2 linked regions of the Homo sapiens genome follow. The protein of the gene in region 2 interacts with the protein of the main gene of each other region in a pairwise test. Each region holds a gene or a part of one and is shown on either strand. Other genes may lie near its edges. The genes, in order: SEZ6L2 and FOXA1.

The links.
Region 1: the proteins of FOXA1 (region 2) and SEZ6L2 interact in a two-hybrid assay, tested with the Homo sapiens proteins (one large-scale study listed by BioGRID and IntAct).

The regions. Positions count from the first base shown.
Region 1 is NC_000016.10:29,870,567-29,873,335, forward strand, and holds the end of SEZ6L2 (seizure 6-like protein 2 isoform 5 precursor), read right to left. Parts: coding exon 2,674-2,769; intron 2,178-2,673; coding exon 2,139-2,177; intron 1,961-2,138; coding exon 1,843-1,960; intron 1,718-1,842; coding exon 1,621-1,717; intron 1,163-1,620; coding exon 1,133-1,162; 3' UTR 593-1,132; downstream 1-592. UniProt on the Homo sapiens protein: May contribute to specialized endoplasmic reticulum functions in neurons.
Region 2 is NC_000014.9:37,588,850-37,592,370, forward strand, and holds the end of FOXA1 (hepatocyte nuclear factor 3-alpha), read right to left. Parts: coding exon 2,516-3,521; 3' UTR 703-2,515; downstream 1-702. UniProt on the Homo sapiens protein: Transcription factor that is involved in embryonic development, establishment of tissue-specific gene expression and regulation of gene expression in differentiated tissues.

The sequences.
Region 1 (2,769 bases), on a different chromosome or scaffold from region 2:
CTTTGGGAAGTTGAGGAAGGAGGATTGCTTGAGGCCAGGTGTTCGAGACCAGCCCGGGCAGCGTAACAAGATCTCATTTCTACAAAAAATTTAAAAATTAGGCAGGCACCATGGCTTGCACCTGTAGTCCCAGCTACTCAGGATGCTGAGGCGGGAGGATCCCTTGAACCTAGGAGTTTGAGGTTGCAGTGAGCTGTGATGGCACCACTGCATTCCAGCCTGGCCGGCAGAGCCAGGCCCTGTCTCTAAAAAGAAAGAAATTGAAAGCTGTTTGCCTCCTGCCCAGCAGCGAGAGAAGACGGGTGGCTCCTGTCAGTTCTCTCCCATCTGGAAGAGGCCCACAATGTCAAGGAAGGCCTGGTGGAGAGGTCACTGCGTCCTGGAGTGAGGCTGGTCGCAGGGAGGCCTTCACAGAGGCTGAGCCTAAAGCCAGGCTTTTTTACCTCAGGCCAGGCCCCCGGACACTGCCCTCTGCCCACTTTCGCATTTCCTTTTTTTTTTTTTTTTTCAAATTGTTCCCCTTTCCCCAGCCCTCTCTCCAGAGAAGTGGTCCAGTGCTCGGTGACCACCTCCCCACACTCCACCGGCCCAATTACAAGTGGCGATTTTCTGTTTATTGCTCAAAAACAAGAATTCAGAAGCAAAGGTGGAGAGACTGTGGGTTGGGGAGATGGCAGGAAGGGGGCAAGGCCTTGTCCCAGCTCTCCCCTTTGTCCTTCTTCTGACCCTCCTGGCCGGAGTCAGGCCTAGGGCCAGGGCATCTGGGAGGGGGGCACCTTCGTGGCCAAGGGAACAGTAGAGCTATCGGGGGCAGTCCTTGAGGGGTGCCCTGGGCAGGAGGGGCTGCAAGATTTGCAGGGAGGCAGAGTTCCCCTCCCAGAATCCAAAAGCCGGTAGGGCGGGGGGCAGGCCCCTCGTTTGGCAACTGAGAAGAGGCGGCTTTGGGCGGCAGGATGCTGGTTTATTTACTGTAGGATCTCCAGGGCCATCAAAGCCCCCTCGTGGGATAGGGAGACTATTTACACAGCCAGGGAGGAGGGCAGCCAGGAGGCAGAGACCGGGTCCCGTATTTCCCTCTGCCCGAATGAGGAGGGGAGGGGCGTCCTGGGTCCTGCAGCTGTAGTCTTGGGGTTCAGATGGAAACTTCATACTCCCGCGTATCCTGAAGACAGAGAGATCAGGTCAGTTGTTGGAGTCTGATAGGGGTGGAAGAGGCAGCCGAATGGGAGGAGGGGCAACGATCCTGGGTTTTAAAGTAACATTGACCTCTAGGGGCTGGGGGGCCAGTGAATGTGTTTGGTTCATCCTACGGTGTCGTAAAATGACACAAAAATCTGAATTTCTGGCTTGTCTTGAATAATTGGAAGATCTGCCAATTGTGCCTCAGTTTCGACTATGGGGTAGAGCCGTATTCTTGAGATGGGGCACAAGTCCTCCACTTAGCCACAGTCCTCACCACTCCCTATTGTATACACATGGCTTGCTATGCTCATTGACATGGCCTCTGGGGGCAGCTGAGTTTGAAATTCCCAAGACAGAGATTCCAGAGACCTTGCGAGAAGGTTATGGAGTCCTGGGAGAGCCAAGTGGTGGCTCTTCAGGGGCAGGCAAGGTGCTTACCCCAGCTTCATACAGCGGGTTGCTGAAGTCCGACTCCACGGTGATGGGGCTGTAGGAGTGGGAGCCCGAGAAGCCGAAAAGGGACTTTCCCTGAAGCCTGGGAAAGGGAGAGGACAGAGGAGCTTATCAACAGGTAAGCCCCTGAGCTCCCCTGACCCAGGCTCCAGTGCCAGGCTCGCAAGACGTCTGCCCTGGCCGGCAGTCCCCAAGCAGGCTACTTACTTGGTGTAGTAGATGTAAACGCCACTGCCGAGGACAATGACCAAGCCTAGAGGCAGCAGGATGGCCAGGGCCAGGTTCCCCCCTTCCAGCTGCCGTGATGGATCTGTGGTCTGGGTCACTACAGGAGGAGGAGAGGCCGGTGAGCTGTGGCTGGGCCCGGTCCTGGGCTCTCCCAGCCTCCTGCCCTGGGCCTCAAACCCTGGGCTTCATCCCTCCAAGGCCTGGCCTCCTGCCCCAGCCTCTGCCTTGCCCTCCCAACCTGGCCAGCCTGGGTCTCCACCTGTGCTCTCACTGACCTTCCAGTTTTCGGTTGTCCAGGAGCTCCTCATAGGCAACTGCAGGGAGAGGAGGGGGAGGGGATGGGGTCTGAGCCAGGGAGGGGAGGAGGCTGGGAGGGGCCGGGAGCCCGGTGGGGCTGGGCTGGACAGCCTGGTTCTCTCTGCCCTCTGCTCAACCTCAACTTTCTCCCTTTGTGGGGAAGAGAGAGGAGTGACCAGCACAGGGCCTTTGTCCTCTTTCTCCAGACCCCTAAAAAGTCAGGGTTCCTGGACAGTCTGAGCCAAACTAGAACTTGTCAGCGATAGGGAAACTGAGGCCTATTCAGAGCAAGGGACTTCCAAGCCAAGGCCCCCTCTACTACACCCCTGAGCCAATCCCATGACCTCACACGACCCAGGGCTTCTGGACACACCCGTGAGGACACGAGGCCACAGGAGGAGAACCGGGAGCTCTGTGGGGTCGCCCATTGGTCTCAAATGTGCTACCTGACTCTCCCAGCCCTGTCACTTCCCGGACACTGGTGTGCCCCTCCTGCCCTGTCTGGCCAGGCACCTTTGCAGAGTGGGGGCTGGCTGGTCCACTGGGAGGGGTGGCCGGGCACACAGGTGATGGTGACCTCGCCGATAAGCTCAAAGCCCTCATAGCAGA
Region 2 (3,521 bases):
GAAGCTTTTTCCTCTCTTTGGGACTTTGATGTCCTTCCGAGGTCTCCAAATTAGGGTTTGAAATTATTCAAACCAGTAATTTCCCTCCCCTCCTCCTTTCATTAACTGAAGTGAGTGGGGGTTTGGGATTTCTGGATTTTTTCAAGTGCTACATGGCACCCTTTCTCTCATCTGGGGAGGCAATTACGCGATAATTAAGCGACTCACACGGCTCTTTTTATCTTGTCCGCGGTGTGGAGTGGGGCGATCAAAGTAAAGGCTGTCCAAGTTCAAGCCCTGGTGAGGATGGAGTTCATACACAAGGGCTCAGGCAGGCAGGCCTCTGCTTGAGCTGGTGTTGTTATTGTTGATGTCAATCCGAACAAGACTTACAAAGAAATAGGTGGACTGGAAAGTGAGCCTGCTATCAAAGGAGATTAATGATTTTGTGATCCCAAGCAACTATGGAGTGTGAAGTTGCATTTAAAAGCTCCTTAGAAGGAAACAAATTATCAACTTTAAGTTCTTAGGAACGACATTTTTGAATCAAAATTTAAAACAATCTTCACAAAATGCAAAATAGCGGCTACCCTAAAATGTCCTGTCGGTACAACGCTTCCCCTGCGAGAGTGAATTAACTCCCCTCCTCCCACCTCCTCCAGAGCTACCCTGATGGCTAAGTTTCGTTTCTCTTTTAATGAGAAGAGAGTTCATGAGTCTCCGTTGGACACAACTTAATTCTATCAGCCACAGCTGATATTTTATTTTCATTGGAAGAATTCTCAGATAAAGAAAAGTGATACATTGGGGAAGGAGGAAAGGTAGTTAAATTAATATTTGATTTTGTAGTGAAAAGGCTCAAAGGAAACACAGAAGGCTTAAGCCGGTGTCAAAAAAAAAAAAAAAAATGAAGTAAACATCACTGGGAATAAAGAATCTTAAAAATCTCAACTCTTGGAATATTAAATCAACTTATACACTTTACTTGAATTTCTTTCACTCCTTTTTACTAGCTACACATTCATTATAACAACAGACAAAACAATTTTATTTTCATTTTTGTCATTTATATTCAGTTCTAGAATTTGAAAAATATCGTATTCAGAAATATTCACTTCGGATTTAGTTAAGTGAAAAAAAATAACAGAAATGCTCTTTTGTTAACATTTGATTTATTTAAAGTCCTTAACTGCAAATGATCAAGAACATTTTCCACGGCTTAAAATCTGGTATTATTTTTGTTATTTAAATCAAAATATTTTTAATTACAATCACATTGATAAAAATTAACAATTTAATTTGTAATTTTAACCATCATTTAAAGCAATTTCAGCTGTAAAGAAAAAGAATAAACCATGCAATAAATTAACATTGAGAAAGCAAAGAGAAATAATAATGAAACCCGTCTGGCTATACTAACACCATGTCCAACTGTGGAAAGTGCATAACACTGGATGAAACAAGCACACGATGGCAATGATTAAAATGGCCACTATCAATAGGATTTTTGAATCTTGGACCACGTTTTGAAATCCAGCTCCCTATAACTTATCTCTCCTCCAACATTGTAATATTCCCTTTTACTGAAAAAAAAATTCTTTAAATGGTATACACTCATAGAAACTAATTTTATGTGTTATGTGACCTCAGAATGACATGACCATGGCACTCTGCAAAGCAAGAAGCAGAGTTCTTGAGGGCAATTCCTGAGGAATTGATTCCCAGGGCCATCTGTGGGTAGAGAGGACAAAGGGGTTGGGGTCCTTGTAACTTTCGGTCAAGCAACTCTTGAGAATGTATCATGTATATCACCTATCTATTACCTCTATATGTTATGTAAATATACGGAGGATGTCTACACATCTGAGCATGTGCATAATTAAGTCCATACACAATATACATGTATTTCATTTAAAGACATCTGCTATCTGCATGTATCAGAAATGTAAACTGAGAAGCAAATGGCTCTGATGTTTATAATCTGTTTATGTCTTGCTATATAACAGCAGTATTGTCTTTCAATACTTTTAAGAGCCTCTAGTGTATACTTGTTTCTTCACCATTTCAATTCTTATGGTTAAGAGTATTGCCACAGACCTGTAAACTCGTAGGGGGTCAGGTAAGGAGGGGGAAAAAGCACAAACAAATATTTTACAAACTTGACCATCTTCCTTTTTTGTTTTTTTAAATAACCCTCCACAAACTAGAATGTCTGGAGGGGAAAGAGGGAAGAAAGAGAGGGGGGCAAGGAAGGAGGAGAATTTCATATATACACTTGTGGATCATTAAACTTCGCAGGAAAAAAATTGGTTTGGGGTTGTCTTTGTAGTAATATACACAATGAATTTTGAATACAATAATAAAGTAACAGTCTTTTGCACTGGGGGAAAGGTTGTGCATGAAAAATGAAATAAAAATAGTTGTTGGGATTTTATTATGCTGTTGACGGTTTGGTTTGTGTGGTTTTGTTTGCTGTTGATTTTTTCTCTCTTGCTACCAGCATGGCTATGCCAGACAAACCCCCCAGTCCCGGGAGCTAGGAAGTGTTTAGGACGGGTCTGGAATACACACCTTGGTAGTACGCCGGCTCCAGGGCTGAGGGCTCGATGGGGCTCCTGGTGGTCACCGAGGCGCTGCCTAGAGGCAGGCTGGCGGGCAACGTAGAGCCGTAAGGCGAGTATTGCAGTGCCTGTTCGTATGCCTTGAAGTCCAGCTTATGCTGCTGCTCCGAGGAGGACATGAGGTTGTTGATGGAGAACGGGTGGTTGAAGGAGTAGTGGGGGTCCCCTTTCAGGTGCAGCTGGGACTCGTGGGGTGCCAAGCCGTGTGCCGGGTGAGAGGCGGGCACAGAGGCCAGCGCCCCGGGCCCGGAGCTTATGGGGGGCGCAGTTGAGGAGGCTGGAGTCTTCAACTCCGAGGCGCCCCCTGTCGCCGTCGCCCCACTGTGGTCCAGAGTCTGGGGGCTGGCGGCGGGCCCGGGGGCCGGCGCGCCCTCTAGCTGGCCGGTCTTCCCGTGCACACCCCGATGGAGGGGCGAGTCGGCGCTGGGGTTAGAGGCGCCAGAGGGGTCCTTGCGGCTCTCAGGGCCGCCCTTGGCGCCGCTGCCCCCGCTTCCGCTCCCGCCCCCGCCGCCGGCCCCCGGCTGCTTCTCGCACTTGAAGCGCTTCTGGCGGCGCAAGTAGCAGCCGTTCTCGAACATGTTGCCGGAGTCCGGGTGCAGCGTCCAGTAGGAGCCCTTGCCCGGCTTGTCCGGGGAGCGTGCCACCTTGACGAAGCAGTCATTGAAGGACAGCGAGTGGCGGATGGAGTTCTGCCAGCGCTGCTGGTTCTGCCGGTAATAGGGGAAGAGGTCCATGATCCACTGGTAGATCTCGCTCAGCGTGAGCATCTTGCTGGGCGCCTGCTGGATGGCCATGGTGATGAGCGAGATGTACGAGTAGGGCGGCTTGGCGTGCGGGTAGCTGCGCTTGAACGTCTTGGCGTCGCCGCCGCCGCCCGCGCGGCTGCGGCCCAGGTTGGACGGCGCGTACGCCATGGGGCTC